Homo sapiens: one gene and its partners. The protein of the gene in region 2 purifies or fractionates together with the protein of the main gene of each other region. This does not show direct contact. Each region holds a gene or a part of one and is shown on either strand. Other genes may lie near its edges. The genes, in order: E2F3, NUP98, MOB1A, TWF1, NUP37, RGPD2 and SRP54.

Region 1 (4,103 bases), on a different chromosome or scaffold from region 2:
TGAAGAAAGATGGCCTTTTGTTTTACCATTTCAGGTGATGTACTTTTGCTCAGTATTAAATCAGACTTATTCACTTAAATCACCCTTATTCTTGCTGCTATATAGGGAGACACTAAGGGAAACAATTGCATATATATCTCCTCAAGTTAGGAAATGGAAAAATATATACTGCAAAGAGCTTCCTTTGCTCTTTGCAGAGCGGGAAGGAGAAGTTAGATTTCTTTTCTTTTCTTTTCTTTTTTTGAGATGGAGTCTCACTCTGTCACCAGGCTGGAGTGCAGTGGCGGATCTCGGCTCACTGCAACCTCCGACTCCCTGGTTCAAGTGATTCTCCTGCCTCAGCCTCCCGAGTAGCAGGGATTACAGGCACGTGCCACCACGCACAGCTAATTTTTGTATTTTTAGTAGAGACAGGGTTTCACTGTGTTGGCCAGGACAGTCTCGATCTCCTGACCTCGTGATCTGCCTGCCTCGGCCTCCCAAAGTGCTGGGATTACAGGTGTGAGCCACCGCACCCGGCAAGACTTACTTTCCTAGCGTTCTCCTCCCATATCCTCTCCCCATCTCATTGGGGGGGAAAATAAGACAAAAATTCTCCAACAAAGGCTTTTCTCCTCAAACCTTTTTCATTTCCCTCTCTGATGAGCTCTGCAGTGTGATTCAAAGGTGTGTGGCCAAGTGTCTCTGATGATCCAACAAGACAGTTCACAGCTTTGCTCCTCACTTTAGCTGGTTTTCAAAAATGCTGTAAGGAAACATTCTCTGCCAATAGCAAAAGCCTGAAGCGACTCCATAAGTGGGTGAAGGAGCCGTTTTTCCCAAATCATTATTTTCTTCTGCAAACCAGTCAGAATGTCTTTTAAAACATGTTACCTAATACCAATAGAAGTTTGTGTTTCTTGCCTAGGCTTGTGGTTCCAATACAGATGGTTCTAGTCACCCTCATTTTTAACATAGTTTCTAAAAGACAAAAGTGGAGTTTTTACCTTTGGAAGCGGGTTTAGGGATATTCCCATTGTGGTCTTGGTTGTTTGTTTTCATTGGACTGTGTGTTTCAGTCTCTTCTGGACATAAGTAAACCTCAATGGGCCCTTGGGTACTTGCCAAATGTATTTGTAGGCTCTATGAACAGAAGTGGGAGAAGTTCGAATCAGAAGTTCTTTTAGAAATAAAAGCCATAGTAATTCTTGTCTAAAAATGGAAAGTAAGAACAATGTTCGTTTTTCACTTGCTTTTTCCCTACTAGTCCAACTCTATGAAAGACTGTCATCCTCTAGAGCAGGGGTCAGCAAACCACAGCCTAAGGGCCAAATCCAGTTCACCAAGTGGCTTTGTAAATAAAGTTTTATTGGAAGAGAGTCACATCCATTCCCATTGTTTATTATTGCCTCTGGCTGTTTTCGTATCACAATGTCAGAGGTGCACAGTTGAATAGTCTAGACACAGGCTGTACGGCTCGCAAAGCCAAAAATATTTACTATCTACCTGGCACTTCAATGAAAAAGTTTGCTGAGTCCTGCCCTAGAGAAAGAAAACTATTTTAGTGGGGCTTGGGGGAGAGGGGAGTCATTCTGAAAATAGCACAATGGGTGAGGTGAATTGTGTTCTTTGGATATATTCTTTTTCTGCAAATTATTACAAGGTCCTTTAAGTGTTCCAAATTCAGTATCTCCATGTTATTGTTCCTTTATGGTAGGACTTTTTCATGTTGAACTGTATACTGATGAATAGTATTCTTAAGTGCTAGGAACTGCATCTATTAAGAGAATGCAGCATACCAACATTTAAAAATCTTTTTCATCTAGGTCAAAGAGCTATTATTATCTTTTAAGGTAAGAAGTCTACCCTAGATGGAAGCGTGTAACTTTCATTCTCTTTTTATCTCCTATGCATTTTCTTTTTACTACAACTCTTTATGTTATAGTTGTAGTCTAGGCCTCTATTATCCAAGTATATCTGAAAATTACAAAAATATGCCCCCTACTTTCTTGCAATATTCTAGTCTATCAGCTAACCCAAAGCCCCATGTGATCTCTCAAAATGTTATAAGTTAGGGAGAGACTTTAAAACATTTATATATCTGTTCGTGGTGGGGACCATATACAGGATAATCAATATAAACTTTCCAAAGTGATTCAAATTGATCAAAACCGTTGATGACAAATTATGAAAAAGAGAAAGTATGAGAGGGACAGCGCATCATATACCACTTTGAACTGAACATCCTGCTAGGTCAAAGTTAGGTTGTTTGAATACTCAATGAACATCAAACCATTGAAATGTTTTCAAATGTATGGTTAAGTAAAATAAATGGGAAAGAACCATCAAGTTCATAGGAGGGGGACAGACTTTAACTATGAGTCAATGAGTCATTCAATTTCAGGCATTCCACAAAGATCTTTGCAGATGAACAAAGACGCTGTCTCCTTACCTCTATTGAGTCAGGCACTTCAAGTCTTGTTTCTGGAGGGGCTTTCACAACTATAACAGTTTGGTCTTTAAGGCCACTAATTTTTCGAATATCTTGATATGTAACATAAGCTAACGTAAAGAGTGTCAAGGAATCTTCCATCTAATTACCTCAGATATAAGTATGATGAAAATGACAAAATAGATGCATGGAATATTTTAAAGTATTTTATGACTTAGAAGTATGCATATGTGGCCGGGCGCGGTGGCTCACACCTGTAATCCCAGCACTTTGGGAGGCCGAGGCGGGTGGATCATGAGGTCAGGAGATGGAGACCAACCTGGCTAACACGGTGAAACCCCGTCTCTACTAAAAATACAAAAAGTTAGCCAGGCGTGGTGGCGGGCGCCTGTAGTCCCAGCTACTCGGGAGGCTGAGGCCGGAGAATGGCATGAACCCGGGAGGTGGAGCTTGCAGTGAGACGAGATCGCGCCACTGCACTCCAGCCTGGGCGACAGAGCGAGACTCCTTCTCAAAAAAGTATGTGTATGTCTCCCCTTCTGGATGTGCAAATGTTTAGGGTCTCCCATGAATCTTCATTTCTGGTTGACACTCTAAACAACTAAAGAAATGAATAGCTTTATCCCGCCCATTTCTAAAAAGACTATGGCTATTTAAAATATTAAACATAGAAACAGAACAGTTAAAATAAATGATCATAAGAAAATAAAAAACTAAGTGGTCAGAAATTTTATCTTGAAGCCAGGGTCCTTTGCAGCACAGGCATTCCATGAACTCCAATAAAGTGTTCTGTCACTCAAACTGAATGATGGCAGATTCCAATTTGCAGGAAAAAAAAATGTAATCTCTATTAGCCATAATTTTTTTGAAACTCCAGTTACTTCTATCTACAAGCAAGTGTCAGCAGCCACCAAGTAAATAAATAAGTAACAAATACATTAGTGGAGGAACTCAGAATACTGCTCAGGCAGACAGCTTGTTTTCTTAAGTGCACCTGGGCTGGTTGTGATTATGTACTGCCTACAGAAAAGAGTGTCATTATTTCTGTTAGAAAAATTATGCTTTGCGTGATACTATATTAACTCTATCAATATTTCAGTGTTCATGAGGAAGAAAGCAGTTTCCAGGTGCTCTGCGACTTGAATGAATTTGAGAAACACTGATTTAGGAAAAGAGAAAAGTATAATATCTCAGTACTCTTGGTAGTTATTTCCTTTTTCTTTTTGAGACAGAATCTTGCTCTGTCACCCAGGCTGGAGTTCAGTGGCCCAATCTCAGCTCACTGCAACCTCCGTCTCTGGGGTTAAATGATTCTCGTGCCTCAGCCTCCCAAACAGATGGGACTACAGGCGTGCACCACCACACCCGGCTAATTTTTTTTATTTTTAGTAGAGATGGGGTTTTACCCTGTTGCCCAGGCTGGTCTTGAACTCCTGGACTCAAGTGATCTGCCTGCCTCCGGCCTCCCAAAGTGCTGGGATTACAGGTGTGAGCCACGGCGCCCGGCCTTGGTCATTTTTTCTAAGCACTGAACCATTCTTTTAAATGTCCTGACAGCCAAGCCTAAAAGGCTATCATGAAAGAATATGGTACTTACGATATGACAAAAGTATTCAATTAATGTACAATGTCTTTAGCCCGTTATTATTTTTTATATGTACCCACAAAAAAT
Region 2 (4,103 bases):
CATACCTCATTTTGTTGTACTTTGCAGGTACTACATTTTTTACAAATTAAAGGTTTGGAAAACTGCACAGAGCAAGTATATTAGCACCATTTTTCCAACATATGTTTACTTCATGTCTGTCTCTGTTTCACATTTTGGTGGTTCTCACATTATTTCAGACTTTTTCATTACTATATCTGTTATGGTGATCTGTGAGTAGCAATCTTTGATGTTGCTGTTTTGTTTTGGGGTGCCACCAACTGCATCCATATAAGATGGTCAGTTGATAAATGTGCATATTCTGGCTGCTCCATCAACTGGTCATCCCCATCTCTTTCCCTCTCTTTGGGCCTTCCTATTTCCTAAGACCCAATAATCACGAAATTAGGCCAGTTAATAACCCTACAATGGCCTCTAAATATGTTCAAGTGAAAGGAAGGGTAGCACAACTCTAACTTTAAACAAAAGCTTGAAGTGATTAGGTGTACAGAGAGAAGCATGTTGAAAGCCAAGATAGGACAAAAGATAAGCCTCTTTGCCAAACAGCCAAGTTGTGTTAAAGGAAAGTTCTTGAAGGAAATTTAAAGTGCTACTCCAGTGAACATATAAATGATATGAAAGTGAAACAGCTTTCTGGCTGATGCGGAGAAAGTTTTTGTGATCTGGATAGATGAAACCAGCCACAACATTCCCTTAAGCAAAAGCCTAACCTCCCTTCAGTTCTGTGAAGGCTGAGAGAGGTGAGGAAGCTACAGAAGAAACGTTTGAAGCTAGCAGAAGTTGCTTCATGAAGTTTAAGGAAAGAAGCTGTCTTTCCATTCCATTAAAGTGCAAGGTGAAGCAGGAAGTGCTGATGGAGAAGGTACAGCAAGTTACCCAGAAGATCTAGCTAAGATCATTGATGAAGATGGTTACACTAAACAACAGATTTTCAGTGTAGATGAAACTGCCTTCTATTGAAAGAAGATGCCACCAAGGACTTTCATAGCTAGAGAAGAGAAGTCAATGCCTGGCTTCAAAGCTGCAAAGGACAAGTTAACTCTCCCTTTAGGGCTAATTCAGCTGGTGATGGTAAGCAGAAGCTCATTTACCATTCTAAAAATCCTAGGGCCCTTAAGAATTATGCTGAATCTACTCTGCCTGTGCTCTGTAAACGGAAAAACAAAGCCTGGATGACAGCATATCTGTTTATAGCTCAGTTTACTGAATACTTTAAGCCCACTGTTGAAACCTGCTCAGAAAAAAAAAAAATTTCTTTCAAAATATTACTGCTCATTGATGATGCACCTAGTCAGCCAAGAGTTCTGATGAAGACGTATAAGGAGGTTAATGTTTTTATGCCTGCTAACACATCTACTCTGCAACCCATGGGCAAAGGAGTAATTCAGCTTTCAAGCCTTATTATTTAAGAAATACATTTCATAAGACTATAGCTGCCATATAGATAGCGATTCCTCTGATGGATCTGGGAAAGTAAATGAAAACCTTCTGGAAAGGATTCACCATTGTAGATGTATTTGTAGGCCAGGCACGGTGGCTCGTACCTGTAATCCCAGTACTTTGGGAGGCCAAAGCGGCAGATTGCTTGAGCCCCAGGAGTTCGAGACCAGCCTGGGCAACATGGTGAAACCCAATCTCTACAAAAAATACAAAAATTAGCTGAGCATGGTGGTGCGTGCCTATATTCCCAGCTATTTGGGAGGCTGAGATTGGCGGATCACCTGAGCCTAGGGAGGTTGAGGCTGTAGTGAGCCACGACCATGCCAGTGAACTCCTTCCTGGGCAACACCGTGAGACCCTGTCTGGGGCGGATGGTGGGAGAGGAACATTTGTGATTGGCCAGGCATGGTGTTATGTTCCTGTAATTTCAGCTACTCAGGAGGCTGAGGCAGGAGTACTGCATGAGCCCAGGAGGTTGAGGCTGCAGTGAGCCATGATCACACCACTGCACTCCAGCCTGGGTGACAGAGGGAGATCCTGTCTTAAAGAAAAGAAAAACAAAAAAGAACATTTGGGTCCGGGCATGGTGGCTTACACCTGTAATCCCAGCACTTTGGGGGGCCAAGATGAGTGGATCTCTTGAGCTCAGTAGTTCGAGATTAGGTTGGGCAACATGGTGAAACCCCATCTGTACCAAAAGTACAAAAAAATTAGTCGGGCCTGGTGGCACACACCTGTGGTCGCAGCTATTCGGGAGGCTGAGGTTGGAGGGAGGATCACTTGAGCCTGCGAGGCAGAGGTTGCAGTGAGCCAAGATCGTGCCACTGTGCTCCAGCCTGAGTGAGAGAGTGAGACCCCAACAAAAAAATACACAAAAAACATTTGTGATTCATGGAAGGAGGTCAAAATATCAACATTAAATAACAGGAGTATGGAAGGCATTGAATCCAGCCCTCATGGATGAGTTTGAAGGGTTCAAGACTTTAGTGGGGGAAGTACTTGCAGATGTGATGGAAACAGCAAGATAACTAGAATTAGAAATGGAGCCTGAAGATGTGACTGAACTGGTGTCACTCATGAGGAGTTTGCTTTATAGACAAGCAAAGAAAGCAGTTTCTTGAGATGGAATCTACTCCTGGTGAAGATGCTGTGAACATTGTTGAAATGCCAGCAAAGGATATGGAATATTACTTAAGCTTAGTTGATAAAGCAGCAGCTGGGTTTGAGAGAACTGACTTCAGTTATCTTATTTTAAGAAATTAGCATAGCCATCACAACCTTCAGCAGGCAACACCCTGATCAGTCAGCAGCCATCAGCATCAAGGAAAGACCCTCCACCACCAGAAAGATGACTTGCTGAAGGCTCAAGTGATTAACATTTTTAGCAATAAAATATTTTTAAATTAAGGTATGTATATTGGTTTTTTAGACATAATGCTGTTGCACACTTAATAAGTGACAGTGGTATAGTGTAAACATAACTTTTATATCCACTGGAAAACCAAAAAATTTGTGATTTTATTGTGATACCTGCTTTATTGTGGTGGTCTGAAATGAAACCCACAGTATCTTTGAGGTATGCCTGTATGTGCTTTTACTTCTGAAGTCCAGCCAACATTATTTCTCCTTCCTTTCTGTCTTCCTGCCATGTCTTCTGTACTTTTGGAAACTATGCACTTGTGCAGACATTGTGCTCAATACTTTGTTTCTTCAGATGCCATCATTAATGAGAACTATGACTACCTGAAGGGGTTCTTGGAAGACCTGGCACCTCCAGAGCGCAGCAGCCTAATTCAGGATTGGGAAACATCTGGGCTTGTTTACCTGGACTATATTAGAGTCATTGAAATGCTCCGCCATATACAGCAGGTACCTGAGATCCTGAAACTGCTGCCTGATTTTCCTTTTCTCAGGCCCTTAAATCTTCAGATACCTCACAAGGCCTTAGTATACACTTGAGAATGCACTGACAGAGATAGCACTGTCAAAGCAGGCATCTTGCTGAGGCTCATTTGATATAACCGTTTCTGACAGCTATATCGAAACTTAAAAATGCTATTTTATGTTGATTACCAACTAGTATGTGCAATAGACATTCCTGAGGCTTGTCCATAGACAGTCTCTTCCCCTTGTTCAGTCCTAGTTTGAGTGAGAAGCCCAAAGATGAGAGATAAAATAAGAATGGAGATTTGGTGAGGGTGAGGATAGCTGTTTTACACATCATTTGGCATGTTTTAAAATTGCAAATATGGGTTTTAAAGTCAATGTCTTCGGTCAGTTTTTTTTTTTTTTTTTTTTTTGGAACAGAGTCTTGCTCTGTCATCCAGGCTGGAGTGCAGTGGTGTGATCGTGGCTCACTGCAACCTCTGCCTCCCAGTCTTAAGTGAGTCTCATGCCCCAGCCTCCCAAGTAGCTGGGAGTATAGGGTGTGTGCCACCACACGCAGCTAACTTTTGTATTTTTAGTAGAGATAGTGTTTCACCACATTGGCCAGGCTGGTCTTGAATTCCTGGCCTCAAGTGATCGGCCCACCTTGGCCTCCCAAATTGCTGGGATTACAGGCATGAGCTTACCGCACGCCTGCACGCAGCCTTAAGGTCAGTCTTTGTAGTCGTAAAATGAGTCTCCACTGCTTGCTTATGGTGCAAAAACCAAACTCATTATAATAAATATAGGATTCAAGT
Region 3 (4,103 bases), on a different chromosome or scaffold from region 2:
AGTAATCTTCAGTAGAACTTAAGGTGATTTATTAAAGTTAGATGTAACTTCTATTGACAAAATGTGAATGAACCTGTTTTAATCACAACTTGCACATTTGTTAATATTTTTGAAAAATTTATCAGTAAAACATTTTTCTCTTCAGATATGAATATCACTGGGCAGATGGTACTAATATTAAAAAGCCAATCAAATGTTCTGCACCAAAATACATTGACTATTTGATGACTTGGGTTCAAGATCAGCTTGATGATGAAACTCTTTTTCCTTCTAAGATTGGTGAGTTAACATTGTCGAAGTATTCTTTCTTTTTTTAAAATTTTATTTTATTAATATAAATAGAGTTGGGGGGGTTTGCTGTGTTGTCCAGGTTGGTCTCAAACTCCTGGCCTCAAGTGATCCTCCTGCCTTGGCCTCCCACAGTGCTGGGATTACAGGTTTGAGCCACCGTATCCAGCCTGTTTCTCTTTTTGAATGATAAATCTGCTCTTTTTAACATTGTTATACTTGTAGAGACTGCCAAATTCTCCTCCAAAAAGTTTGTACCAACATGTACTCCCCCCAGCCCTGTTTGTGTTTGCCAGTGTTTCTTCACCAACACTGGTTATTACTCATTTTTTAATATTTTCTAATTTGGTTAAATTTCTGTTTTAATATGCATTTAAAAAATGTTGATGAGATTGAGCATTTTAGCCTTTTTGTTTGTTTTATTGATCATTGTGTGTTTTCTGTTTATATCTTTCATCTATTTCTGTGTAAAGGATATTAGCGCTTTGTCGTATGTGTTGTATATCTTTTTCCCCGGGTTACCTTTTGTCTCATTTTGTTCATGGAGTATTTTTGCTGTACACAACCTTACTATTTTGTCCTATTATATCTTTTATGACTTGATTTTAATATAACAATTAGAAAGCTTTTCCCTGCTTCAAGATTATAAAAATATTTATTCATGTTTTCTTTTTTTATTTTTTTATTTTTTGAGACAGAGTCTCACTCTGTTGCCCAGGCTGGAGTGCAGCGGCACAATCTTGGCTCACTGCAATCTCCACCTCCCAGGTTCAAGCAGTTCTCATGCCTCAGTCCCTGGGTAGCTGGGACTACAGGCACATGCCACCATGCCCAGCTAATTTTTGTATTTTTAGTAGAGATGGGGTTTCACCATGTTGGCCAGGCTGGTCTTGAACGCCTGACCTCAAGTGATCTACCTGCCTTGGCATCCCAAAGTGTTGGGATTACAGGCATGAGCCACCACGCCTGGCTGGGAAGTTTTTTTTCCCTGAATGCTACATTAATTTTTTTCCAAATGGAAATACTAGTCAGTTTGTCCCATTACCATTTATTAAACACATTTGCCTTTTCTCCCCTGATTATCTTATGTGCACAACAAATTGCCATATATTTTTGCATGTTTTAGTCTCTTTATCTGTTCCTATAGAAATTCCACACGTTGGTGACTGTGGCTCTGCATCTGTTAGCATCTTGTAAGGCTGGTCTCCCTTCCTCGCTCTTCTTTTTCAGAATATTCACAGCTATTCTGGGATATTTGTTTTTCCAAAGAACTTAGAAACATTTTGTCAAGGTGAAAAAAAAATTAGATTTTAATTATGACTATATTTAATTTTTATAGATAGGGATTCTTTTTACTGAATCTTCCTAGCCAAGAACAAGATATTGTTCATTTATTCATGTCTTTAGCTTTATTTTCTCTTGTAAAATTCTGTAGTTTATGTCAGTTGTTCAAGTTTCTTAATTTTATTCTAGGGATTTTATGTCTTTTATTGATAATCTGGTTTCCAGCTGGTTATTTAGTATATAGGAAAGCTGTTGGTTTTTATTGTAATTTATTTTTAATTTTTTTTGAGACAGGGTCTCACTCTGTTCCCCAGCCTGGAGTGCAGGGGTGTGATCACAGCTCTCTGCAGCCTTGATCTCCTGGGCTCCAGTGATCCTCCCACCTTAGCTTCCCAAGTAACTGGGACTGTAGGCACGCACCACTACACCTGGCTAATTTTGTTTATTTTTTGTAGAGATGAGGTCTCATTATGTTGCCCAGGCTGGTCTCGAACTCCAGGGCTCAAGCATCCCTCCTTCCTTGGCCTTCCAAAAGTGTTGGAATTACAGGTGTCAGCCACCAGGACTGGCCAGCTGTTGATTTTTATTTAAATTTTATAATTAACCATCAGACTCTTTTTCTGTTAGTTTTTGGTTGGTTCTCTTGAATTTTTAAAGTATACAACTGTGTCATATTAAGATAGTGTTCATTTTGTCTCTTCCTTTCTGATAATGTATTCTTGTTTTTACGCTTGCTTATCTGATTGCACTGAGTGGTATTTCAAGCGCAATGCCGAGTAATGGTGATGATGGCAGACATCCGTTTCTTGCCTTCTTACTATTATGCAAGTACTTCTAGTATTTCTGCAGTAAGCCGAAATCTTGGCTTTTGGTTAGAGGTGTATGGATTTTTAAAAAATTATATTAATGAAAAATATCCACCATTTATATTACAAAAATTGTTCTTAACGAGGAATGGCTATAGAGTTTATCAGATGCTTTTCCAGTATCTGTTGCCTATGACCATAAGGTTTTCTCCATTTTTTAATAAAAATATTCTGCTGGAAGAGTATTTGTTAATATTTTGATTAAGAGTTTGGCATCAGTATTCATGGATGAAATCACTCCTTGTCATTTTCAACTTAAGAGTATTTTATGAGCAACATATTTTTGAATTCCTTTTTGCAGTCTTATAGAGGCTTTTCAGGACAACAGTTTTTTTCCAAGTTGTTAACATTTGGTCTGTTTGTTGTTGGTCAGTTTTTCCATTCTGCTATTAAACCTTTTATTTCCTTTCTCATATATCTTTATTTTATATTGACTGTGCTTGAATATATCTGTTAAATTCAGCTTGGAAAGTGTTTAGATTTAAACAAATTACTTATTTCTTTACTCATTAAAGTCTCTGCTTATGGAAGGTAAATAATTCTTTTGATTTATCCTCTTTTCTCTCTTTTTTGTTTGGAGACAGGGTCTCACTCTGTCACCCAGGCTGGAGGGCAGTGGCACAGTCTCGGCTCTACTGCAACCTCCACTTCCTGGGTTGAAGCGATTCTCGTGCCTCAGCCTCCAAGTAGCTGGGACTACAGGCGCCCACCACCACACCTGGCTAGTTTTTGTAGTTTTAGGTAGAGACAGGGTTTCACCATGTTGGCCAGGCTGGTCTCGAACTCCTGACCTCAAGTGATTCACCCACTTTGGCCTCCCAAAGTGCTGGAATTACAGGCATGAGCCACCATGCCTGGCTTTTTTCTCACTTTCTTGTTCTTAAATAATTCATTCTGATCCACCACCTCTTAATCCCACTCCCCTGCCATTAGGCTATTATCTGCATCTTACTTTTGCCAGTTATTTAGTCTCAGACAGAACTGTTTATCATTAATTTTTTACTAATATATGCACATTATTAATATCCTTTTATTAGAAAGATGCCCATTTATACATTCTGATAAAAAAAGATGTTTGATTTTGAAATCTACTTTTTTTTTTGAGACAGACTCTCACTCTGTTGCCCAGGCTAGAGTGCAGTGGTGCAGTTACAGCTCACTGTGGACTTGACCTCCCAGGCGCAAGTGGTCCTTCTACATCAGCCACTTGAGTAGCTGAGACCACAGGCACGTGTGCCACCACGCCCAGCTAATTTTCAATTTTTTGTAGACACGAGGTCTCACTGTGTTGCCCAGACTGGTCTCAAACTTCTAGGCCCAAGCAACCTTTCTGCTTCAGTCTCCCAAAGAGCTTGAGATTACAGGCATGAGCCACTGCACCTGGCCAGAATACTGCTTTTTTTTTTTTTTGAGGCGGAGTCTCACTCTGTTGCCCAGGCTGGAGTGCAGTGGCATGATCTCAGCACACTGCAAGCTCCGCCTCCCGGGTTCACGCCATTCTGCCATTCTCCTGTCTCAGCCTCCCGAGTAGCTGGGACTACAGGTGCCGCCACCACGCCTGGCTAATTTTTGTATTTTTAGTAGAGACAGGGTTTCACTGTGTTAGCCAGGATGGTCTCGATCTCCTGACCTCATGATCCGCCCGCCTCGGCCTCCCAAAGTGCT
Region 4 (4,103 bases), on a different chromosome or scaffold from region 2:
GTAAATATATGTATTTACACATATATACACAAATTGAAACACTGAAATATATTTTTGAACTTTTTTGTTTGTTTAGAGCTTTTCTGATTCAGAAAGTCATATAATCTAGTGGATAGAGCACAAGACTAGATGGGAATATATTGCTTCTTCACCATTAATTGTGAAGTGGGCTGGTTTCTTAATTTCATGAGTCTCAGTCTTCTAAACCACAAAATTTTGATGATAGGTAGACCTCTTTGTAGTATTTTTTTCTTTTGACATGAAAACTATAATAATTTTCCATGAATAATTACAAAGAAATTATATTAAGCATTATAACATAGTATTCAGAATCTGAATATGTTGATTATTGGATAATCATTGGGCAGTTTTCTCCAGAAGGTTAATTACAGTTGTCCTATAGACTTACAGGATGACCAGGTTCAGTATTTCACTTTGCCAGTATGAAACTCATACAAAATATTTAGTAATTATAAAGCTTCATATAAAATGAACAGTGGGTACTCCCCTTAAAAAGTTTTGAAACTTAAAATTGAGGATTAAAGAAAAGTAAAAAGATATTAAAATTCATAATGCTATTTATTTTCATTTAAAATCTTTTCTGTTAATGATTTTGTTTTTCCTAAAGTAACTTCACTGTCATTTTACTTCTAGAGAATTACTGATTATAGTCTATTCTGTACTTACAGGAAGATGTATCATTACATGGATATAAAAAATACTTGCTGTCACAATCTTCCCCTGCCCCACTGACTGCAGCTGAGGAAGAACTACGACAGATTAAAATCAATGAGGTAAGTTACAACTACAAAGTCTTTGCAAGATTTTAAGTGTTTGAAAATACTGTATTTTTAATTAATAGATGTGGGAGGATAACTAGAGATTAAAGAAGTTAGGTAGCTTAGGTTTATTCCGTTTAGTTTAGAGATAAGGCTATGTGCTTAATGCCTTTTCAGAAAAAAAAAGTTAAAATGAATATTAAACTTTATATGCATTTTATAAATAGCTTTTCCTATAATCTTCATGTCAGAATAGTAAATCTTCCTTTTGAAGTACAACTGTTGTGAACTTTGTACTTTGAATATTATATAGAGAAAAAGTGTGTGTTACCCATTTAGTGCAAAGAATGTATCTAATAAGGTTGCCTGAAGCAGATTATTGTTTTGTTGGCTTTCTAGAGAGTCTACAAATTAACTTCTATGAACTCTACTTGAATAGAGATATATATGGAAGATTATTATTTGAGTACCTGTTGAGCATATTAGAGTCAATAAATTTCAGCCATATTATTTTGTAGTTTATCATTATTTTTAATGTGTTTTCTACAGCCATTCTAACATACTGGAATAACTACTGTATTTCTACTGGGACTTTACAGAAAAGAACAAGTGGCTGAAACCACTATTCATTAGCTGAAACCACTGTTCATTAGCCTGAGTCACAGACAGTAGGAATCAGTCTGGAGAATGGTTGAATATCATTTAATATTAAACTGGTAGCAAGGATCTATCATATTATTTTAATTCATATTATTTGAGTAGGGCTTTTTATGTGATTTTTTTTTTTTTTTACGAGTTTGATAGTTTGTTTTATTTCTTGCAATCAGAGCCCAGAGGATCATATTGGGGTATGCATTCGCATATGTTCTATGATGTTTTCATTAACCAATATCATTTATGCTGTAGAATCTCCATTCATTTTTTTAAAAGTAAAATTTCTATTGGACTTTCTGTTGCAACACTGCGAATGAGACTCTCTACTAGCTATCATTTATCAAGTATAAAAATCTTAAACATGTGCATTGAATGCTTTCTTATCTTTCTCCTCTTCCAGTACATGCACACCATGTTCTTAGTAAAGAAATCTCTTAAGTCTGGAACTTCTGCAGTAGTATAACTTGTTGAGCTGTGTTGTCTTTGTACACTGTTTGTACTCCTTTCAATTCAGTGCATGATGTTTGTGTTGCATTTTCTGTCCAACAGAACAAAGTAAAGTTCTATACATATTGTATGTAGATTGTTGTTTATAAATTCTATCAAGTAAAATTTTACAATCAGTGGTGTAATCTGATGACACTCTAAAGAAATTGTGCCAAACCAAACATAAAAACAAACCCACCCAAACCCCACTAACTGTACACTCATTCAAATGTTCACTTCCAACATTGTCGTAAAGATGTGTCATGCACTCTGCATGTTGACAAAATGCTAGCAGGACCGTAAACAAATGTGAAAAATAATTTTAATTATAGGTTGGGCTAGGGTTGAATGATACTATTTTATAGAGGTTGGGTTTTCTTATGTTTGCCATAGGATACTGCTAACTGCTAAACTTGTAAATTAAATCTGTCATACTTAGGTACAGACTGACGTGGGTGTGGACACTAAGCATCAAACACTACAAGGAGTAGCATTTCCCATTTCTCGAGAAGCCTTTCAGGCTTTGGAAAAATTGAATAATAGACAGCTCAACTATGTGCAGTTGGTAAGAGATGTATAATGATTATTAAGTGGCTGCTCTTTTTGGTAGTTTATGACTCATATAGGGTTTATTATTAATGGATTTTACATTTTAAATAGCTTTCTGATTTCTAAAATTCATTTTGTAAATGTTCATTGTGAAAAAGTCAAACCATCCAGAACTAAGTTCCTCCTTTATCTCTTGGTCTTTTTATTATATGTTTTAACTTAATTTCCTTATATCTGGTTTTAATGAACATATTTTGTTTCTTATTGGCAGGAAATAGATATAAAAAATGAAATTATAATTTTGGCCAACACAACAAATACAGAACTGAAAGATTTGCCAAAGAGGATTCCCAAGGATTCAGCTCGTTACCATTTCTTTCTGTATAAACATTCCCATGAAGGAGACTATTTAGAGTCCATAGGTATATGATACATTGTTTTTAACACATTACTTTCAGTTTGTTTATTGGTGTATCAGCCCTATATTCTTACTTATTTCTTGCCCAGAGGGCTTAGCTGTAGTTTTATGAAGTTTCTGTACTTGTTTTTATGAAGTTTATATATGTAGTTTTATGAAGTTTATGTATTGATATGCTAATTATATTTGTTATTATTTGAACTTACAGTTTTTATTTATTCAATGCCTGGATACACATGCAGTATAAGAGAGCGGATGCTGTATTCTAGCTGCAAGAGCCGTCTGCTAGAAATTGTAGAAAGACAACTACAAATGGATGTAATTAGAAAGGTAGCCCACCTATTTTAAAATCTTCAGTTTTTGCTAAATTTTTCTTTTCATTTCTATGTAGTTTATGATGTACTGTGATTTATAAATGAAAATATTTATTTTTCTTGTTATCATCCTAAATCCTTAGGATCTCCTCTAAGTGCCTGGGAACTACCTGTCATGATCCCCATCTCTATATATATCTGTACTTCCTAGTAAGCCACATGTGGCTATTTAACTTTAAATAAGATTTAAAGTTCTGTTTCTTAATTCCACTAGCCTTATGTCAAATTCTCATTAGCTAAATGTGGCTACTGGCTACCGTATTGGTTAGTGCAGAATTTATAGGACATTTCCATCAGTGCAAAAAGTCCTATTGGACAGCGCTGCCAGAGCTGCATACTTGTGATTATTTCTACTGCATATTAATAAGGAATTACAGTCTCCATTATGACTGAATTATGGGATGGTTGGGAGTCTTTCCAGTTTGGGGGAAGGAAGGAATAAGCATAAACATTTGAATTTTGGGAACTAAGCTACCAATTTTCTTAAATTTTCTTAAGTACAGATAAGGCATGGGGAAAGATATATATTCTTGAGCCCTTAAACTCATAAAAATACAGGTCCTTAAAAACTACCAGTGTTTTTAGGTTCTGAACCCTTCATGCTTTTTAAGTTCCTAAGAATCAATCACTTTATCATGGGTAGCACCTTCTATAGCAGGGATCAGCTGACTTTCTACAGAGGACCAAATAGTAAGTAAAGGCTTTGCCAAGCCACATATAATCTCTGTCATATATTCTTATTGTTGTTTAACAACCCTTAAAAAATGTAAAACAATCTTACCTTGGGCAAGATTTGGCCTTCGGGCCATGGTTTGTTTACCTCTCTTGTAGAGGGCTTTCAAG
Region 5 (4,103 bases), on a different chromosome or scaffold from region 2:
ATATTATTAATAGAACCGTATTTCTCAAATTATAATGAGCACGGTAATTTGGAAGTGTCCAATTTTCAAAGATTTAAAATAACTATCACTAAAGTGATAGTTATTATAAATGTTATTTCCTCCTTTACTGAGAAGGCAATTCTGTTTTTGTTTTGTTTTGTTTTGAGACGGAGTCTCGCTCTGTCATCCAGGCTGGAGTGCAGTGGTGCGATCTCTGCTCACTGCAACCTCTGCCTCCCGAGGTCAAGCAATTATCCTGCCTCAGCCTCCTGAGTAGCTCGAATTACAGGCACGTGCCACCATGCCCAGCTAACTTTTTTGTATCTTTAGTAGAGACGGGGTTTCACCATGTTGGTCAGGCTGGTCTTGAACTGACCTCGTGATCCGCCCGCCTCAGCCTCCCAAAGTACTGGGATTACAGGCGTGAGCCACCATGCCCAGCGGCAATTCTGTATCTTACAGTATTCTGACATCAAAAATGCAATTTGGCATTTTATAGCACAATGAATATATAAAGCTTTACAAATTGGAATATAGTCATATTTAAGAGGAAGTGTGAATTGAAAGTTTCAGTTTGTTGCTGTCTGAGTAGAATATGACAGCTCCTAGCCTATTTCGTACTGTCTGTTTGGGTGGGAGTAGAAATTAATAGCTTTTAGACTAAATATGACCCTAGCCTGACTTACATGGACATGGTTTAGGATCATAAAAAGTCATATGATTAAGACAATGTTACGTACTTGAAAAAGACTGAGGAAAAACCATTTCTCTAATGCAAGCCACCAATGTACAAAAGAGTAAAGCAGCCTCCTACAGGTAAAACTAATTTTTACTTCATTACTTTTAAAATTAATAACAACATAGGATTGTATTCGCAAACACTGAAAAATGTTTATCTCATTTATGATTAAGAAATGTTGAGGGAGAAAGTCAGTGGAGAACAAATTAGGAAAAGAGAGGCAAAGATGAGAGAGGGAGAAGTTGGGAGAAAGAAGGAAAATGACTAACATGAGAAAAAAGAACTAGTATAAACATTTGTGTTCTGTTATAGTTTATGGTCACATGTATTGTCTCAGTTACCCTCATACCTGTGAGATTAGCAATGTAGGTCTCGTGCCCAAATTACTAAGGAAAAAATTAGATTTTTATTAATTTGGACAATAGTAAACACAAATTATATTCTGCATCAGACATTGGAAATACAATTAAGTAAGTCCATTTCAAAATAAATTATTGCTTTTCTGTGGAGTTATTTTTTATCTAGCTAAACACTGTTAAACATTACTATTCTGTTGTCCTAGAACCTTCAAGTTCCATTGCACCCAGTTTCATGCCTCTTGTCTTGAGAGAAAACTAAGTAAAGGTAAATTAAGTGGAAAGATTTTCACATTCCTGACAGAAAGATAATCCTTATTTTAAGGCTGTTTAGAAAACGTTGTAGATATAGTGAATTTGAATTTCAATAAAGCATTTTTCAGAATCTCATGTTGTCCCTTTGATTATGATGGACATATGAGCTTCTGAATGATAGTACTGTTAACTGGTGTCGTGTATTTGTCAAATTTTCATTAAGTGCATACTGGGTGCCAAGACATGAAAAAAGCAAGGACCATATCCTTAAGGAAATATTTACATATAAAGCAGTGCAATAAGAAAACTGCTATAAAAACCTTTGTTAAAGGGCAGAGGAGCATGAACATATATGCTTGCCTAAATCAATGTTCTCATCCAAGTTCTACTAGAGGCCTCAATTCACTAATGAAGACCCCTTGAATAGACTTAGAAATCTGGTATGTATTTTACACTTTTTAAAGTGTACACATATCAAATAGAACTAGCCACATTTCACGTGCTTCATAAGGTCCTGTGTGGCTAGTGGCCACCATATCAGACAGCACAGTTCTCTCTGCATCTTCCTCTGTAAATCGACAGTAATCTTTAATATAATAATAATACTCTGTAGTTCTCAGCAGTATATTATGATTCAGAGAAGATAATGTATTTTAATACAAATTTCAGGGTAGTATCTAAATGTTTAAAACTGTGAAAGAGGTATTAGACTCAATGGTAAATGGATTTTATGTTATTTGTCATCTCTATTTGAATGGACAGAGTTGTTGCTTATAATGCTTTCAGGCTGAGGCTGAATCTGCTGCTTAGTGTGTCTTCACCTAGAGGAGATCAGCTATGGCCAGATATTTGTCATCATTAAGTTAGACTGATTTGGTGTGGTTCCAGAGATGGAACGTGGAATAATGAGTAGAATTTACATGGAAACAGATTTTGGCTTAACGTTAAGAACTCTTCTAATAATTAGAGCTATCCCCCAATTGAATAAACTTCCCAAAGAAATAGCTAGTTCCCTGTCACTGGAAGTGTTCAGAGAGGGGTTGTGTAAACTCTTTTTTTCAGATGCTCTCCTAGGGATTCAAGCATTGGGGGGAAAGAATTGAACTAGAGAAACTTCACAGTCTTGACTAACTGAAATTTGTATTTGGCCTTAAATGGGTGTGGTGGGAGGGCCTGCCAGTTTCAAACCCTTATAATAGCCCTTCCATCAACCTGGCTTTGCCCCAACCTCAAATATGCCGAAACCTTGTATAATCATTTGTATTATAGCAAGTTTTCCAAAGTATCTTAATTTCCTGCCTATACAATTCTGCTTATACCCCAAACTAAATCCAAAATAGCATTTGTCTCTGCCTATACCACACACACACACGGGCCTTTTAGTTGGCTCAGTGGCAAACAGTGCTGCCAGGAAAACAGGTTTCACTGGTAAAACAAAAAGCCCAGGCTGTACAGTCCCTGAGATTTCTTTATCCCCATGACCACCCAGTAATTCCATATGTGATTTGGGTAACAAATTAAAGGACTTGATTGTCAACAATATTGTTACAGTAGCAAGATGATGTGTATTTACATGCAAAAACTTCATTTTTAGGAGACTGATTTGTCAAGTTTGGAAAAATAGATGTAATCCAAACTGTGAAGTCAGCTATGATTAGGCTCCTAAACTTATTTTAAAATTGTTTAGTGGCTGCTGTCTTGGCATATCTGGCTGTTAGCTATACAACTATTATACACACAAATTACGAAGTAGTAAAATTTGACAGTGTTTTTCTTTCCTTGATAAGTGTATTTCTTTCATTTGTGGAAAAACTTTTTGCTGTTAACTCTTAAGTTCACCTGAAATTTGAAGTTATTTTCAAAGGGTATCTGAATTATGCAGAGAAAGATGTGTAGTATATTTGTGAAATGACTTTACTGGGATCCCATAGGCTATCCTGGAAAAATCAGTATATCTACTTGGATTTCATTCGAGTATACATTATAAAACTTTGCATTTAGATTCTGGGTGAATGGAATGCTTAGATCAGGCCTTCAAGTAATTCCTATCAATATAGACATACGTATTTCATTAAATATCAAGTTTCACCTGCTGGATTTTTTCCCTGATACTTTATAATACCATACACTTTTATAAAGAAAACTGTAGTTAGCACAGAAGATTCCTTGGACAAATTTGTCGCGAAAATTTGGCCTTCTTTAGTCTCAAACCCAGTTCAGGTATTGATTTAAATAACAGAAGGATGATTTACTTATTTTTAAAATTGCAAAATTTTTTTATCATTTTCTTTTTTACCTTTCCTATGGTGCTGAGCAGTATTTTAATGCTTATAAAAAATGTGTTATCCATAAAGGCATAAAGAGTAATAAGATGGATCCCTGTATACCTGCTGCTTAGTTTAAGAAAAGGAACATTAGCAATTCTTTTGAAGCCCCCTAAGTATCCTTCCCTTACTCATGGTAGGTATTTTGCATGGCAGGATTTTCTTTTTGTTTGTCTGTTTTTTCCTGCTTTCCCCTTAATCGGGCCCTGGATCTATGCAGAAATCTCTGATCTGGCATCCTTCCTTGTGCAGGCACTAGGATTTGTCTCTTCTCTCTTGCAAACTGAAGCTTTAAATCATTGCATGTAGGCAGATACCCTTATAACAGCTGCATACCTTGGTAGTCGTTTGCTTGTCTGTATTTGAATTTTTGCAATGTTGTAATGGGAGAACTTTTCAGGTTATTGTCTCCATTGCCAGCGACAGATG
Region 6 (4,681 bases), on a different chromosome or scaffold from region 2:
GAGAACAGAGAGAAAGTCTTTCTGAGTTTGGCATTCTAGTAGGAAGAGGCTATATTAGATTAGATTCTACTTCATTCTTTAATCCCTGCAAGCATCATTTCCACAGGATTCTTGGTGCATGGGTATTCAGCATTAGAATGAACACTTCGTGGGACTTTATGCAGCCACCTGTTCCAATACTATGCACTATTAGAAAGTTATTCCTTAAATTGAATAAAATTTTTCTACCCTATGACTTTCTTCCCTTAATGTTAGTTATACCCTCTGGGCCTACAGAAAAAAGTCTATTCTCTCTTCTGCATGACAGCTCTTCAAATATTTCAACACAACTGGCATGGTTCTCCTTAGTTTTCTCATCCCCAGGCTAAACACCCACAGAAGATTATACTGTAGCATTAATATCTCCACCTTGCATTTCTCTACACGCCCACATGTCTTCTCCTTTGTTACTTTTCTCTAAAACAGTGGGAACAATGAAAAATTATGACATATATGAACTTAATTACATAATCTCAGTCACCTCCTACTTCACTCCCCCACATAGCTTCTTTGCAGACCTTGTAGTGAAGTGCTGTAGCATTTAGAGGAAAGAAATCATTCAGGAATCATTTGTAAACCAACAAGGTTTATTTTAACCCTAAAAATCATAGAAATGTAAAAGACAAGCACATTCTAGAATTAATCATCATTCCCATTGAAGCTATTCATGGTAGCAAAGACTAAATAAATATATGAAAATATTTTATATTTTAAAAATTGTAATGAATTTACAAAATTTACAGGAGCAGATACAGTAACAGGAATCAGCTATGTTGCTACAAGTATATTTTAGAATCAGATTTCCATTTGAATTTCAATTATGCCATTTACTAGCTGTGTGTTCCTATAGACTTTACAAGTAGTATCTGAGTCACAATGTCTTTACAAAGAGAAAATAATTCTTAACTGAGATATTTACTGTAAAGATATAAACAAACCTATGTATAGCAGATTGGAACAAGTTCAGCTTATCTGAAAGCATACAAATGAAAATATTGAAATAAGCAAATGAATGGTTTACAGCACCCGCCTCGGCCTCCCAAAGTGTTGGGATTACAGGCGTGAGCCACGGCGCCCGGCGGGCAAGACACCCTCAGAGCACAGGGTGCTGCCAAGAGCCCGGCCGAGTGCAGCTCGAGCGCCGACGTCGCCAAGGATACACAGTGCTGACGCAGTACACAAGTGCGTCACAGTGGTCCTCCGCCGGCTACGTCAGTGGCTTTCAGGCGCTTTCCTGTTGGAATTGGCGACTGCTGCGGGGCTGAGCGCTGGTTTCACGCGTCTCGGGAGCCAGGTTGGCGGTGCGATGAGGCGCAGCAAAGCCTACGGGGAGCGGTACCTCGCCTCGGTGCAGGGCTCCGCCCCGTCGCCTGGAAAGGTGAGTGGATCTCGAAGAGACCGACGGCCTCGACCTGGCCGGGCGGCGGCCTCGACCTGGCCGGGCGGCGGCCTCGACCTGGCCGGGCGGCGGCCTCGACCTGGCCGGGCGGCGGCCTCGGCCTCGGCCTCGGCCGGGCGGCGGCCTCGGCCTCGGCCTCGGCCGGGCGGCGGCGGCGGCGACGGCGGCCTCGGCCTCGGCCTCGGCCTGGCCGGGCGGCGGCGGCGGCGGCGGCGGCGGCCTCGGCCTCGGCCTGGCCGGGCGGCGGCGGCGGCGGCGGCGGCCTCGGCGTAGGAGCCCGAGAAGATTAGTTGTGGCAATAAAAATGATTAAGGATACTAGTATAAGAGATCAGGTTCGCCCTTTAGTGTTGTGTATGGCTATCATTTGTTTTGAGGTTAGTTGGATTAGTCATTGTTGGGTGGTAATTAGTCGGTTGTTGATGAGGTATTTGGAGGTGGGGATCAATAGAGGGGGAAATAGAATGATCAGTACTGCGGCGGGCAGACCTAGGATTGTGGGGGCAATGAATGAAGCGAACAGATTTTCGTTCACTTTGGTTCTCAGGGTTTACTATAGTTTTTTATTTTTATGGGCTTTGGTGAGGGGGGTAGATGGTAATTTGTATTTAATATTTTTAGCTGAGTGATGAGGAATAGTGTAAGAAGTATGGGGGCAATTATGGTGGGCCATACGGTAGTATTTAGTTGGGGCATTTCACTGTAAAGAGGTGTTGGTTCTCTTAATCTTTAACTTAAAAGGTTAATGTGCGGCGGCGGCGGCGGCGGCGGCGGCCTCGGCCTCGGCCTGGCCGGGCGGCGGCGGCGGCGGCCTCGGCCTGGCCGGGCGGCGGCGGCGGCGGCCTCGGCCTCGGCCTCGGCCTGGCCGGGCGGCGGCGGCGGCGGCGGCGGCGGCCTCGGCCTGGCCGGGCGGCGGCGGCGGCCTCGGCCTCGGCCTCACCTCTCTTACACTTAGAGTCTTTTTTTTTCCCCCAAATTTAAAGTCATTTACATTAGAACCTGGGGATTTCAACGGAATATGGATTAACTAGTGAGTAACTTTGGAACATGTGAAGCTATTCTGTAAAGTTAGGTTTGAGTGAAATGACAAAACAGGGTGCTTTGGATAGAAGGTAAGGAATGGAGGGAGAAGAGGCAGTGGCTGTGAAGAATATAAAGAGGTTAGTATTCTCCCCCAGTTTGGCAGAGGCTGGCCATCTGTGAACTGCCCATGCTTTCTAGAATGTCTGAGTTTTGGAGTGTGATGATGCGTCTGTATATCATATCTTTCTAGTCTTCCATTGTGCTTTCATTTGTTAATCTTCTCTTGTTTTGCCATTTTTCTACTCCCTCACATGTGCTTTTGCCCTTCTTAAAAATATTCTTCGTCTGTAATCCGAGCACTTTGGGAGGCAGAGAGACCAGCCTGACCAACATGGTGAAAATCCGTCTCTATTAAAAATACAAAAATGAGCCGGGCGTGGTGGCAGCGCCTGTAGTCCCACCTACTCGGTAGGCTGAGACAGGAGAATTGCTTGAACCCTGGAGGCAGAGGTTGTGGTGAGCAGAGATTGCGCCACTGCACTCCAGCCTGTGTGACAGAGCGAGACTCTGTCTCCAAAAAATAAAAAAATAAAAAAATATATAATTCTTTCTCTAGTTTTTCTTTTTCCAGATGGCTTCTGTTTAGTTTTTCTATGTTCTGTCAAGTTGGTTTCTTATTCTGCAGCTGATTCCTACTTCTCAAACTCTACTTGACAGCTCTTATTTTTATTTATTTGTTTTTTAGAATAGGGTCTTGCTGTGTTGTCCAGGCTGCCATCAAATTTTTGGGCATAAATGATCCTCCTACCTCTGTTGCCTGAGTACTTAGGACTACAGGCAGGCACCTTTGACAGCTGTTAGTTTTTTTTTCTGCCCTTTACATCTATACTTCATGCTTCTGAGTAACACACACATATACTTTTGTTATTTTGAATTCCCTTTCTCCCATTTTAGACATTTTGTTTTCTTTTTTTTTTTTGAGACAGAGTCTCGCTCTATGGCCTAGGCTGGAGTGCAGTGTCGCGATCTCGGCTCACTGCAAACTCTGCCTCCGGGGTTCACGCCATTCTCCTGCCCCAGCCTGTAGCTGGGACTACGGGCACCCGCCACAACACCCGGCTAATTTTTTAGTATTTTTAGTAGAGACGGGGTTTCACCGTGTTAGCCAGGATAGTCTCGATCTCCTGACCTCATGATCCGCCCGCCTCAGCCTCCCAAAGTGCCGGGATTACAGGCGTGAGCCACCGCGCCCGGCCCCACTTTAGACATTCTGTACTGGCTATTATGCTCCTCCAAAACTGTCCTCAGACACTTTGCTTTGCCCCTCATTGTTTCAGTACTGTTATTGGAGTTTTTGTTTAAATGAATATTTAACATTTATATAAATATAAGGTAAATATTTTGCATTTGAATTGCCCTTGTTGTGCAGTTTTGTTTTTCCTGGACTGAATAATTGCTTTATTTTTTGGTTTGCTTGTATGTTGTGTTACTACTTGGTTACTTAAACTCAGCAACTTAAACCCTCAAATGTGGTCAAACTGGTCACATAATCCGATCAATTTCAGCTTAAAACATTGATTGATTGATTGATTGATTGATTGTCTGTCTACCTGGAATACCCTTACTAACCGACTTCTCCAACCCAGATTGGTTTTTCTTCCTCTTTGCTACACAGCTGTGCTCTTGGGACTTCCCTTTATCACCAGTTTGAGAATTCCCTTCATCTTTTTTCTGAGTTAGACCCTTTGTTTCTTGTATCTCATGTCATCTTCATTTACTTTCTTTGTTTTGGTGTAGCATAGTTCACTTGCTTTGAGGAAAAGTGGATGAGAGGTTTTTTTGTTTGTTTTTGTTTTGGGACAGAGTCTTGCTCTGTTGCCCAGGCTGGAGTGCAGTGGCATGGTCTCAGCTCACCACAACCTCCGCCTCCCGGGTTCAAGTGATTCTCCTGCCTCAGCCTCCCGAGTAGCGGGATTACGGGTGTGCGCCACCATGCCCGGCTAATTTTTTCTATTTTTAGTAGAGATGGAATTTCACCATACTGTTCAGGCTGGTCTGGAAACTAATGGTATGTCTTTAAAACATCTTTACTTAATTTAGTTGATCATTTGGTTATCGAATTCTGAGTTTGAAATAATTTTTTTCGCAATTTTGAAAGCATTGCTCCATTTTCCAGAAGTTCTGTTGTTAGGAGTCTGATGAGAGTCTTGTTCTTGGTAAC
Region 7 (4,103 bases), on a different chromosome or scaffold from region 2:
TTTTTGTTTCTATTTCTAATATTCTACTCATTCTGAGATCTCCAAGGGTCTCCTAATTTCCACATGTAGTGACCTTTCTTGTTTTCCTTGGTTCCTAATATTTAAGTGTTTTCTGCCTTTTCTGTTTTCAGACTCTAAGTTCTATGTCTGTGGATTTCTTATATTATTCTAGCTTTAATTATCACTTCTGTATAAATGGCCAAATATGTATTTCAACCTTAATCCTCTCTTCCACTGTTTAATTCTGCGTTTCTAGTTGACTGCTATAACATTTCTTTTAAGATACTGTACTGCCACTTCACATTCAGAATGCCTGAACCAAATACCTTTTCTCTTTTTATCTTTAGGACATAAATAGAAAATACTTTCTCTTTTGGCTTGTTCCATCCCTGTTTTTAAACCTTAGGTTAGTATACATACAATGAAATGCTCAAATCCTAAGGATACCTTTCTTTTTTTGACAAATGCACAGTAACCCACACCCAATCAAGAAACAGAACATTTCCATTACTCTAAAAGGTTTGCTTGTGCCCTTTCCCGGTAATACTTCATATTATAGAAGTCCTGGGCTGTGCATGGTGGCTCACACTGTAATCCTAGTGCTTTAGGAGGCCAAGGTGGGAGGATCATTTGAGGTCAGGAGTTTGAGACCAGCCTGGGCAATGTAGTGAGACCCATATCTCTTAGAAAAATCCAGTGGCATGCATCCATAGTCATAACTACTCTGGAGACTGAGGCAGGCGGTCACTTGAGCTCAAGAGTTTGAGGCTACCAGTGTGTGATGACTGTACCACTTCAATCCAGTCTCAGTGATAGAGCACAACCCTCTTAAAAAAATAAAGAAATTCTGAGTATATCGTTTTTCTTCCAATCTGTTTTCTTTGACTAAGCATATTTTGATATTAATTCATGTAGTTGTACTTATCTATAGTTTGTTCTTTTTATTGCTGAATAATATTTTTTCCACAGTGTATCCATTTTCCTGTTCATAGATACCTAAGCTATTTAAGAAACTCCAAACAATCTTCTAAAGTGTCTTGCTATTCTATATTCTCACCAATATATGGGAGTTCTTTGTGGTCCACATCCACTTTAACTTTTGATATTGTCAACCTTTAAAATTTTACTCATCCTAGTAGGTGTAGTTTATGTGCCTTGTTTTCAGGTTTCTTGTGTGTTTGTATATGTGTCTTCTCAGATAGAATGTAAGCTTCTCTATGATAGGACCTGTCTTTGTCTATGTATTCTCCCCAGCATTCATCCTGTCATCTTGCACATGGTAACTGCTTGGTGAATATTTATTGATGTATATTTTATAAATATGCTTCAAGATGAATTCATGATTAAGGAATAAATTAGTTTTGTTGAATGGAAATGTACATACTTTAATATATCCGAATTATTTACATTGTATTTCAGGTCAGTTTACGTTGCGAGACATGTATGAGCAATTTCAAAATATCATGAAAATGGGCCCCTTCAGTCAGATCTTGGTTAGTTATCCTTAAAACTTTATACCTTCTTTTGTTTTCATTAAATTTTCTAAAATAGATACACTTGCTTTAATTATTTTTACATTCGGGTAAAAATATATCTAAGACTTAGTGTCAATATTAAACCTAATAGTTAAATGTGGACATTTTGAACCATTAATCTTAAGCTACTATTGACTTTATGTTTAAATCTGTTGTAGGGGATGATCCCTGGTTTTGGGACAGATTTTATGAGCAAAGGAAATGAACAGGAGTCAATGGCAAGGCTAAAGAAATTAATGACAATAATGGATAGTATGAATGATCAAGGTAAGATGGCAGATTATTTTCCTCAGGCAAAAATGTTCTGAGTATCAGTAAGATGAGAGTTTCACTGTATTCTTGTGGACAAGATGGGGAGAAATTTAGCCTGAAAGATTATTTTTAGGTAGATTTGTAATAGCTTGAAAGCTCTTACTCAAAGGGTTATGATTATTGGATTGCCTTCATCGTTGAGAGAAATGTCTAGTATAATACTTCTCCAAATGAGTTACAAGGAAAGAACACTAGTTCTTCATGATGTTCATAGAGTTAACTTAAAAGGAGAACTCTGAGTCAAATGTGGTGGAATGCTAGTTTTTAAAGAGTTAAATTTGGCTGGGTGAGGTGGCTCACACCTGTAATCCTAGCACTTTGGCAGGCCAAGGTGGGAAGATTACTTGAGGCCAGGAGTTTAAGACCAACCTGGCCAAACGTAGCAAGACCCTGCCTCTATGAAAAAAAATTATTTACTGAAAGTCTCTTCACGGAGCTTTAATATTGCTAACATACATTGGGAAACTAAGAAATGGATAGCTTAAGCAATGCTTAGAAAATTCTTTCTGTCTGAAACATAAGAATTCAGTTTTCTCAGTATACTGCTCTGTTCCCCTGACCCTATAAAGGCATGCCTCAGAGATACTGTGGGTTTGGTTCTAGACCACTGCAGTAAAGGAAATATCATGCAATAAAGTCAGTCATACAGATTGTTTTGGTTTTCCAGTGTATATAAAAGTTATGTTTACAAATACATATACTGTAGTCTATTAAGTGTGCAAGAGCATTATATCTAAAAAACAATGTATATACCTTAATTTAAAAATAGTTGATTGTTGGCCGGGCGCAGTGGCTCACGACGCCTGTAATCCCAGCACTTTGGGAGGCTGAGGCGGGCGGATCACCTGAGGTCAGGAGTTTGACACCAGCCTGGCTAACATGGTAAAACCCCGTTTCTACTAAAAATACAAAAAAATTAGCCGGGCGTGGTGGCACACACCTGTAATCCCAGCTACTTGGGAGGCTGAGGCAGGAGAATCGCTTGAACCCGGGAGGCGGAGGTTGCAGTGAGCCGAGATTGTGTCATTGCACTCCAGCCTGGGCGACAGAGTGAGACTCTGTCTCAAAAGAAAAAAATAAAAAAATATAGTTTATTGCTAAAAATGCTAATGATCATCTAAGCCTTCAGTGCATTATAATCTTTTTGCTGGTGGAGGGCCTTAGCTTGATGTTGATGACTGCTAACTGATTACAGTGATGGTTGCCAAAGGTCAAGGTGGCTGTGACAATTTCTTAAAACACAAGAATGAAATTTGCCCCATTGATTGACTCTTCTTTTCACAAAAGATTTCTCTGTAGTATTCGATGCTGTTCGATAGCATTTTACCCACAGTAGAACGTCTTCCAAAATTGGAGTCAGTTCTGTCAAACCCTGCTGCTGCTGCTTTATCAACTAAGTTTATGTAATATTCTAACAATTTGAACAATTTTTCATATCTGTGCTTTATCTACTATCTGATTTATTGTTATTTTTTTGTAGTCTCTTTTTCCTGAGCTCCAGGTTTTCATAGTAGCCCAAATAAGACTGTCTTTTTCTTTTAAGGTTGTTTTTTTTCCTCACTGTCTTTAACACTGCAAAAATGTTTGCATGTAGAATTCATAATTGCAGCATATCTAAAGTATCCATTCTGTGCCAGGCACTGTCCTGAGCACTTTAAATATATTAATTCATTTTATCATCATAACAACTCCTATGGCATATTCAGTTATTATCTGCCTTTTTCAAATTAGGAAACTGGGATACAGGGAAGTTGAGTAATTTGCCCAGTATAGAACCTTTCCTGACTTCCTTCCTTCTTTGAATTAACGCCCCTTCCTCTATTTGCTTAACTCTGTCGTATTACTTGCCACGATGTGCTGCTATTAGTTTATCTTCTTTCATTTGATTTGAGCTGTTGGAAGGAATATAATATATATGTTTCATAAATCTTTTATAAGGAAGATGTGGCTTAAAAGCTGCATTTATGAAATGGATTTGGAGGTTTTGATCGTGACTTTATTTTGAGATATTGTATCTTTGTTAGTATTGCATTGATAATTAGACTTCACCTGGATTTCAGTTCACTTCTGGACAATATACTTAGAGGGTATGTATAGACAAATTAAAAGATGTAGGAAATCAGGATGATAAATGGGGTTCTAAACCATGTTAGAAGAGTCAGAGGTGGATATTTGTCATCCAGCGAAAATTCACAGGAGACATGGTAGCTCTTATGCATTTGAAAGCTGGCCAGGTGCGGTGGCTCTCAACTGTAA

Evidence for each region.
Region 1: the proteins of NUP98 (region 2) and E2F3 purify together in Homo sapiens (pull-down; one large-scale study listed by IntAct). This does not show direct contact.
Region 3: the proteins of NUP98 (region 2) and MOB1A purify together in Homo sapiens (affinity purification with mass spectrometry; one large-scale study listed by BioGRID and IntAct). This does not show direct contact.
Region 4: the proteins of NUP98 (region 2) and TWF1 fractionate together in Homo sapiens (co-fractionation; one large-scale study listed by BioGRID). This does not show direct contact.
Region 5: the proteins of NUP98 (region 2) and NUP37 purify together in Homo sapiens (affinity purification with mass spectrometry; 2 studies listed by BioGRID and IntAct, with this or other methods). This does not show direct contact.
Region 6: the proteins of NUP98 (region 2) and RGPD2 purify together in Homo sapiens (affinity purification with western blotting, with the first as the bait; one study listed by BioGRID). This does not show direct contact.
Region 7: the proteins of NUP98 (region 2) and SRP54 fractionate together in Homo sapiens (co-fractionation; one large-scale study listed by BioGRID). This does not show direct contact.

What each region holds. Positions count from the first base shown.
Region 1 is NC_000006.12:20,485,132-20,489,234, reverse strand, and holds part of E2F3 (transcription factor E2F3), read right to left. Parts: intron 2,547-4,103; coding exon 2,432-2,546; intron 1,123-2,431; coding exon 987-1,122; intron 1-986.
Region 2 is NC_000011.10:3,678,739-3,682,841, reverse strand, and holds part of NUP98 (nuclear pore complex protein Nup98-Nup96 isoform 1 precursor), read left to right. Parts: intron 1-3,133; coding exon 3,134-3,288; intron 3,289-4,103. UniProt on the Homo sapiens protein: Plays a role in the nuclear pore complex (NPC) assembly and/or maintenance. NUP98 and NUP96 are involved in the bidirectional transport across the NPC. May anchor NUP153 and TPR to the NPC.
Region 3 is NC_000002.12:74,161,394-74,165,496, reverse strand, and holds part of MOB1A (MOB kinase activator 1A), read left to right. Parts: intron 1-145; coding exon 146-279; intron 280-4,103. UniProt on the Homo sapiens protein: Activator of LATS1/2 in the Hippo signaling pathway which plays a pivotal role in organ size control and tumor suppression by restricting proliferation and promoting apoptosis.
Region 4 is NC_000012.12:43,796,089-43,800,191, reverse strand, and holds part of TWF1 (twinfilin-1), read left to right. Parts: intron 1-689; coding exon 690-794; intron 795-1,606; coding exon of another isoform or gene 1,607-1,627; intron 1,628-2,358; coding exon 2,359-2,484; intron 2,485-2,739; coding exon 2,740-2,890; intron 2,891-3,094; coding exon 3,095-3,216; intron 3,217-4,041; exon of another isoform or gene 4,042-4,103. UniProt on the Homo sapiens protein: Actin-binding protein involved in motile and morphological processes. Inhibits actin polymerization, likely by sequestering G-actin. By capping the barbed ends of filaments, it also regulates motility.
Region 5 is NC_000012.12:102,113,063-102,117,165, reverse strand, and holds part of NUP37 (nucleoporin Nup37), read left to right. Parts: intron 1-4,103. UniProt on the Homo sapiens protein: Component of the Nup107-160 subcomplex of the nuclear pore complex (NPC). The Nup107-160 subcomplex is required for the assembly of a functional NPC.
Region 6 is NC_000002.12:87,822,394-87,827,074, reverse strand, and holds the start of RGPD2 (RANBP2-like and GRIP domain-containing protein 2), read left to right. Parts: upstream 1-1,278; 5' UTR 1,279-1,345; coding exon 1,346-1,417; intron 1,418-4,681.
Region 7 is NC_000014.9:35,017,273-35,021,375, forward strand, and holds part of SRP54 (signal recognition particle subunit SRP54), read left to right. Parts: intron 1-1,419; coding exon 1,420-1,493; intron 1,494-1,693; coding exon 1,694-1,802; intron 1,803-4,103. UniProt on the Homo sapiens protein: Component of the signal recognition particle (SRP) complex, a ribonucleoprotein complex that mediates the cotranslational targeting of secretory and membrane proteins to the endoplasmic reticulum (ER).